Homo sapiens: one gene and its partner. The protein of the gene in region 2 interacts with the protein of the main gene of each other region in a biochemical or structural test. Each region holds a gene or a part of one and is shown on either strand. Other genes may lie near its edges.

Region 1 (3,647 bases), on a different chromosome or scaffold from region 2:
ATATTTGCATGGTCAGTTAGAAAAATCCCACTGTAATGCTCGAGTTAGTCAAAACAAACTGCTTTAAGAGTTATTGAGATTCCCTCGTCACAATTTCTGTTGGAATTTTTTTAATGCGGTTTAGCACAGTATAGGCAAGCGCTTGCTTTTCTTCCCCCAGAGCCACAGCACCCCAAAATTGGAAACTCGGAGAGATGCCTGTGTCAACAACGTTTGCCAAGATGAGCTACCTCCCAGTTGCTGAAGACACCCCCCTCGTTAGAGGAGTCTGCTGGCCGCAGAGAAGGGAGTGCTGGCTCAGAGACATAAATGCTTTTTTGGTTAGACAGGTCAACATCTCTCCCTCCAGAGTAATTCATGATGACCAGCCAGATGCGAGGACAAAAATGTCCAACTGCCTCTGATGAGCACAATCGGCTCATTTCACCTCAACAGGATTGGGCCTGCTATTATTTTATTTATAATATAGATTTATAATTTCATTAGCTTGCCATTTCATCTATTTAATGTATCATTTTTAAAAGAGAATTAGTTCTTGCCTCATGCAGGGAGCACATCGAAGAAAAACATTAGCATAAAAAGGACGGGAAGACAGAGACAGAGTACACCAGCAGTTTCTAGTCGGGCGAGGCTGTGTAATTTGACCTGTTCATTTACATCTGGGCTGGATTTCTAATTAAAATGCATGTATACCTTCATTAAGGCGGCATATAACGTTTCAGTCGAATCGCACTGAGATGGAGTCAACTGTGGGCATCTCTCTACCTGGCTGCACATCTGTATCTATGATTTTAGGTCAAACAAACACCAGTTTTAATGTCCAGAGTTACCCGGAGAAGCAGAACACTTCCCACGAGGTGGAAAGGAGGCTGGCATCTCTCTCTTTTTTCCCTGCAAGTCTATGGTATGCTTTGTCATGGCTAGATTAGGTCAGATGTGAAAACTGCCCTGAGAGATTCCTGCTCCAGAATGGCCCTCATCAATTCAGCTAATCTTTGGCTAATGTGATTTACCTGCAGCAGCTGCAGAATGACAAGGGCCAATAACGATGTCCCTTCCCAGCTAATATTCGACTTGGCTCGGGCAGCGCAGGATCTCAGACCCCTGGCTTCCAAACCACACTGACGGGGGCTTGGGGGCGAGTGTATGCTGCTGCCACCACTCAGGCCGCCCCTGTCAAGGTGGCTTCTGCCAAGCCAGGGCCAGTGGTGGCCTCCCTACTGCCAAGGGCAACAGTCCTTTCAAGGCACAGAACAACCTTTGCTATGCTTCTCCCTGCCCCAAATGACCATTTCTGTAGGGAAAGGGAGAGCATGAAGGGAAAGCACACCCAGCCTCAGAGGAGGAGAAGAAGGAGAGGGAGGAGGAAGAGGAGGAGAAGAAGGAGAGGGAGGAGGAAAAGGAGGATGAAGAGGATGAGGGGGAAGAGGAGGAGAAGAAGGAGAGGGAGGAGGAAGAGGAGGAGAAGAAGGAGAGGGAGGAGGAAGAGGAGGATGAAGAGGGGGAGGAGGAGGAAGAGGAGGAGAAGAAGGAGAGGGAGGAGGAAGAGGAGGATGAAGGGAGGAGGAGCAAGAGGAGGAGAAGAGGAGGAGGAAGAAGAGAAGGAGGAGAGGAGGGAGGGGAAGGAGGAGGAAGAGGAGGAGGAGGAGGATAAGGGGAGGGAGAGGGGGAGGAACATGCATACCTTAAACTGCCTGGCCAGGTGTTGCTTATGACTCTCCTCCACCTGTTTGAACTTGGACTCCAGTCCTTTCATTTGGTTCTCCATCTTCTCCACGTACTGCAAGTCTCTCTGGGTCCGCCTGTCCAAGACCTCTATGGATTGAGACATGTTCTGCACCTGTCAAAAGGGCAACAGGTTCAGCAAAACAGCCGCAGTAGGTGCCAGGCAATCTTCTCTGCCTGCTCGTACAGACATTGCCCTTTCCCACACAGCCAGCACACTGGGAACCAGAAGTGGCCCATGCATTATTTACAAGGTAATCGCCAGCATCGCGGACTGTGAGGACTGATAACTCCCCAAACACAGCAAATTGGTTGGGTAAACATTTTCTTTGCCAACCTGTTCTTATCATCAGGGATGCAAATCAGGGGTGTAGGAGACTCAAGTTCCGTTATTCGCTGTAGCTCCAGGCACAGGCTGGGTGATTTCTCTTGATCTCTCTCTCTCTCTTTTTTTTTTTTTTTTGGTAGTGGTGGGTGGGGATTGTTCCTAGTCTTTCTGTTGCAGGACAACATTAGTTAGGCAAGCATAAACACCAGCAGAGAGGAATGGCACTCTTAGGCTGCCCCGCCCCCAGGTATAAATTCTCCTTCTTCCTAAATCTCATTGACTGTCTTGCTGATAAGGTTGATTACTTAAGTGCAGAGTGAAGGAACAAGGGAGCTGCTCTCCCTGACTCTGCATCAAGCTTTTTTCCCTATCTGCTATGCCATCCATCACACCCCACAGTATCATAGGTAGATGACTGCTCTGCAAACATGTACATTCTGAGCATAGAGTCAGGAATCAATCACCCAGCAAATGAAGAATCGCTGTTTTACATCTTTACAGGCAGATCTGAATTGAGTCTAGCCTCAAGATGGAACTTTAATATTCAACAGGATTCCAGGGAGCTTAAAAGAAAAACAGTTTTAGTGCAGCCACCTGCCAGTGCATTTTATTTGCAGGAAACTGGTGTGTGCTTCTGTGCAAATGCATTCGGGGCTGCGGGGAGGCGGGAGGAAGCTGAGGATTGCTGCAGTGGTGTTTGGGTCATTTTCTCAGAATCTAATCCAATTACTAGAGAGGAAGTTACCTCCATGACAGCAAATCTTCACTCCTGACTTTTCTGCTGAATTTGAAAATACTCTCCCTTCTAGGAACAAAATCATTTGGGGATGAGGCTTAGCTTTGCCGGTCAGTGTGAAAAGAGGACAGTGTGGTTTCTACTTCTTACTATACATCCTCCACCCCGCCAAATAAAGTAAAATACAAGAGAGCAAACCAAGCCTCCTCAGTAGAAGGAAAACCACTATTGCCAATCTCAGCACCCCAAAATGCAAGGAATTTCATATCTTGTTATCAGAAAGTAACACACACAAACTCATCTTGAAATTTTAAGTTTGTAAAGTACACGACGGGGTGGCTTCAGCTCCCTCTCACCCCTTCTCTTCCCCGAGAAACGGAAGCATACCTCTAATACCACCTGCCTGATTCTCTTGTTGTCTTCCTCTGTCACTTTGAATAACTACAGCACCTTTTTCAAGAAAAGATGTAAAGTTTGTCTATATTCGTCCTTCAAGGCCCAGCCCAAATGCCACCTCCTCCAGGGAGGCTTCTCTGATGGACTGAGTTAAAACTAGCTGCAAACTATTTGGAAACAACAACGTCACTTTGTTGGCACAATGTCTGCCTAGGAGTGAGCCACACAGCTGTCCCCCCACAGCTTTCCGGACAGGATGCTCATGGGGGGAGTGACACTGGGTCTCATCCACATCTGTAACCCCTGCACAAAGTCCAGTAAATCTAGTGCACGGGAGTAGCTCCTGCAGCCACATGGCCGGAGGAAGCAACAATACAAATGGCGGCGCCAGTCCAGACCCCTCTCTCCATTCCCCTCCTGGCAAAATCCCCAGGAGCGAAGGCCCACAAGTGCCGAGGAGAA
Region 2 (3,647 bases):
GTTGCTAGGAAAAGATAGATTTAAAAGGTTTTATCCAACCTACAAAAAAAGTGGTACAGTCATCTGTTTTCCTGGCTGCTTACTACTAGTATAGAGGAATAAGTCCATATTAAAAACAAATAATAGCTTTATTGTTTTATTTTTATTCAGTATATTGGCATTTATAAAATTTAATGTGAAAATTCACATTAAGGTTTTCTCTGATTTATTACCATGGAATTTCTGTCTTCTGATAATAAAAGTGTCATTGAGCTATATATAGTCTTAGCAGAGAAGATCATTAATAATTGTAGGGTTTGTCCTAATTCCATATTATTGCAAAAATTATCACCAAAATAAAAAACATCTCTTCAGCTATTCAATTGGTCTTTCATCTTAATTGTTTTTGACTTGAAATCCTAGGCTTTTGACCTTTATGAACAAAGATATGCTGCTGTGAAGATACATCAGCTTAATAAAAGCTGGAGAGATGAGAAGAAAGAAAACTACCACAAGTAAATACTAATACTTTATGGTTTTTTAAAATTGAATATTTTTTGAATGATCATGGAGAATTAATACACTGTCTTCTCATAGACATGCCTGCAGAGAGTATAGAATACACAAAGAACTGGATCACCCCAGAATAGTTAAACTCTATGATTATTTCTCCTTGGATACAGATACGTAAGTGAATATTAAGGTTCAATTTTTAAGGAAAGATATGCTTGCTTTCTCTTTCCCCATCCTGTGTTGATGATATAAATACTCTCCATTTCCCCATTGTGATTCTGAATTCTTGGATATTACTTATGTCTAATTTTTTTCTCTTCTCTGTTGTAGGTTTTGTACAGTGTTAGAATACTGTGAAGGCAATGACTTGGATTTCTATCTGAAGCAACACAAGTTAATGTCAGAGAAAGAAGCTCGGTCTATTGTAATGCAGATTGTAAATGCACTAAGATATCTCAATGAGATCAAACCCCCTATTATACATTATGATCTTAAGCCAGGTAATTATGAAATTTGTCTAATTTTTTTTAAACTTGAGTATAGTTTTTAAAAGTCATTCATTAAGTTATCTGAAAACATGTTTTTTGGTTTCTCTTGTAAGACATCAGTAAAATACTAGTAAAATTAAAAGTTATTAAAGTTATGTTTTTCATGTATGTATCATTAAAAGAATCTTATATTTTATTCTTAGGAAACATCCTACTGGTAGATGGAACAGCATGTGGTGAAATCAAAATCACTGATTTTGGTCTGTCCAAGATTATGGATGATGATAGCTATGGTGTAGATGGAATGGATCTAACTTCCCAGGGGGCAGGCACTTACTGGTAAGTGTATTACTAAAAACATCAGAATGTCTAGATTGGTGCCCAGTGCTTTTATAATAATTTAGTGTTTTTTTTTTTATTTCCATGTAGCCATTAAGATTACTGTGGTAAAGGTACTGATATTAAGCTCTCAGTTGAGAGGGAGACTTCTGTGGTCATTCCTCTTTTCTCATCTGTTCTTAACTGCAAATAACAGCATACTGGAGAGAGAATGACCTGGCATTAACAAGTGACTTCAGTACCTGCCAGTCAGAAACTCCTAACAGGAAGAATTCATTCATGGGTTTTCTTCTACAATGTTAGCGTGATGTTCATCATAAATATAAATACTTATGTTAATATAATATTTTAACTATTGCAAGCAAAAACTGCAAGCATCAAGCCCTCTCTGTGGAGGTTATATGGTTGCAGGAATTTTCATTTTATTTTGAGACAGGGTCTTGCCCTGTGCAGTGGTGTAATCTTAGTTCATTGCAGCCTCAAACTCCTAGGCTCAAGCGATCTGCCCACTTACTCTTGAGTAACTGAGACCACAGGTACGCACCACTATGCCCAGCTAATCTAAACTTTTTGTAGAGACCAGGTCTTAATTTGTTGCCCAGGCTGGTCTTGAACTCCTGGTATCAAGTGATCTGCCTCTCCCAAAGTGCTTGGATTACAGGCGTGAGCCACTGCACCTGGCTGGTGGTTTTTGTGGAAGATGGATGTTTTGTTGGCTGTGAATGGGAGATAAATTTGGCATATTCTTTGGACTTGACTTTCAGAAATCCCTTTTAAAGACTTGATATGTCTAGATTTAAATTTAGATATAATCACAGATTCATAGATATAAATCTAAATGACTGTCATCCCCTCAGTATACCTACGTGTTCACAAAAACTACTTCAGTGTGAATTTTCAAACTTGTTAAATTCACCAAAGTGGAGAACATAAACTATAAAATTTCAAAACAAACTTAGTTCTCAGAGAAAATTAGTTTAGCATAAAGAGTGACATTTTAATGGAAGAAAGATAACTGCGTTCAACTTCATTGAAACAGGATTGTGACTACAAACATAAATGTGACTTCAGGTTTTCCAGAACAGTATTCACACAAACTGAGCACATCATAACCACTTACACACGATGCCACTGTCTGTATAGATTTCACTTTTAATGAGCAGGGATTAGTCATATTCATGTATTCTTTTAAAGCCACTTTCAAATTTTAAATTTGGCTTGTGGCATTTCCTAGGAACATGGATAAGATAATAATGTCATGAATTTTTTCTTCATATTTTAAGAAAACTATTCAAACTGGTAACCCCCTGAAAGTCAATATTCTCAAAGTCTTTGGACTTTTTTCTTTTAGCAACAAGGCTCATTTTTTTTTTTAACAACAAAATCTTATTCTAATAAAACCAACAAAAACAAAGCATCTTGGTAGAATCTTAGATTCCATGGAAGATAGCTTGAAAACCATGTTCTAAACAATAAATTATTCTTCGTCTGCAGGACATTCTCATTATTTGTTTCTCTCTCACTCTGGCTTCACTAGTATAGGGAAGGACAAGGAAATTTCCCTTTTACAGATGTTCGAGGGACAAAGAGCTTATGTTTCAGGGGCTGTACTGGAAGGAGATACAATAATGGCATTGTTCTATAGGAACATGGAATGTATTTCTCATGGAAATCTGTGGTCCAAAAATTGGTTTATGTCTACAGTCATATTAGTTGTTTAGCTATGTACAGCTGACCTTGAATAATATAGGTTTGAAATGCATGGGTCCACTTTTATGTGGCTTTTTTTTTTCCGATAAATACATTGGAAAATTTTTTGGAGATTTGCAACAATTTGAAAAATCTCACTGACGAACCATGTAGCCTAGAAATATTGAAAAAATTGGCTGGACACGGTGGCTCACGCCTGTAATCCAAGCATTCTGAGAGGCTGAGGCGGGCGGATCACTTGAGGTCAGGAGTTCGAGACCAGCCTGGCCAACGTGGTGAAACCTCGTCTCTGCTAAAAATACTAAAAGTACAAAAGTTAGCTGGGCATGGTGGCCATGCCTGGAATCCCAGCTACTTGGGAGGCTGAGGCAGGGGAATTGTTTGAATCCAGGAGGCAGAGGTTGCAGTGAGCTGAGATCATACCACTGCACTCCTGCCTGGGCGACAGAGCAAGACTCCGTCTCGAAAAAAAAAATACTGAAAAAATTAAGAAAAAGGTATGTCACGAAGGCGTGAAATATATGTAGATACTTGTCTGTTTTACCATTTACTGCCATAAAATGTACACAAATCTATTACAAGAAGTTAAAATTTATCAAAACGTATACAAACACAGAC

What was found. Proteins that work in one complex are often made in the same cells at the same time.
Region 1: the proteins of TLK1 (region 2) and OLFM1 form a complex in vitro, tested with the Homo sapiens proteins (one large-scale study listed by BioGRID).

The regions. Positions count from the first base shown.
Region 1 is NC_000009.12:135,094,057-135,097,703, reverse strand, and holds part of OLFM1 (noelin isoform 4 precursor), read right to left. Parts: intron 1,841-3,647; coding exon 1,685-1,840; intron 1-1,684. UniProt on the Homo sapiens protein: Contributes to the regulation of axonal growth in the embryonic and adult central nervous system by inhibiting interactions between RTN4R and LINGO1. Inhibits RTN4R-mediated axon growth cone collapse.
Region 2 is NC_000002.12:171,003,819-171,007,465, reverse strand, and holds part of TLK1 (serine/threonine-protein kinase tousled-like 1), read left to right. Parts: intron 1-402; coding exon 403-494; intron 495-576; coding exon 577-666; intron 667-822; coding exon 823-992; intron 993-1,183; coding exon 1,184-1,319; intron 1,320-3,647. UniProt on the Homo sapiens protein: Rapidly and transiently inhibited by phosphorylation following the generation of DNA double-stranded breaks during S-phase. This is cell cycle checkpoint and ATM-pathway dependent and appears to regulate processes involved in chromatin assembly.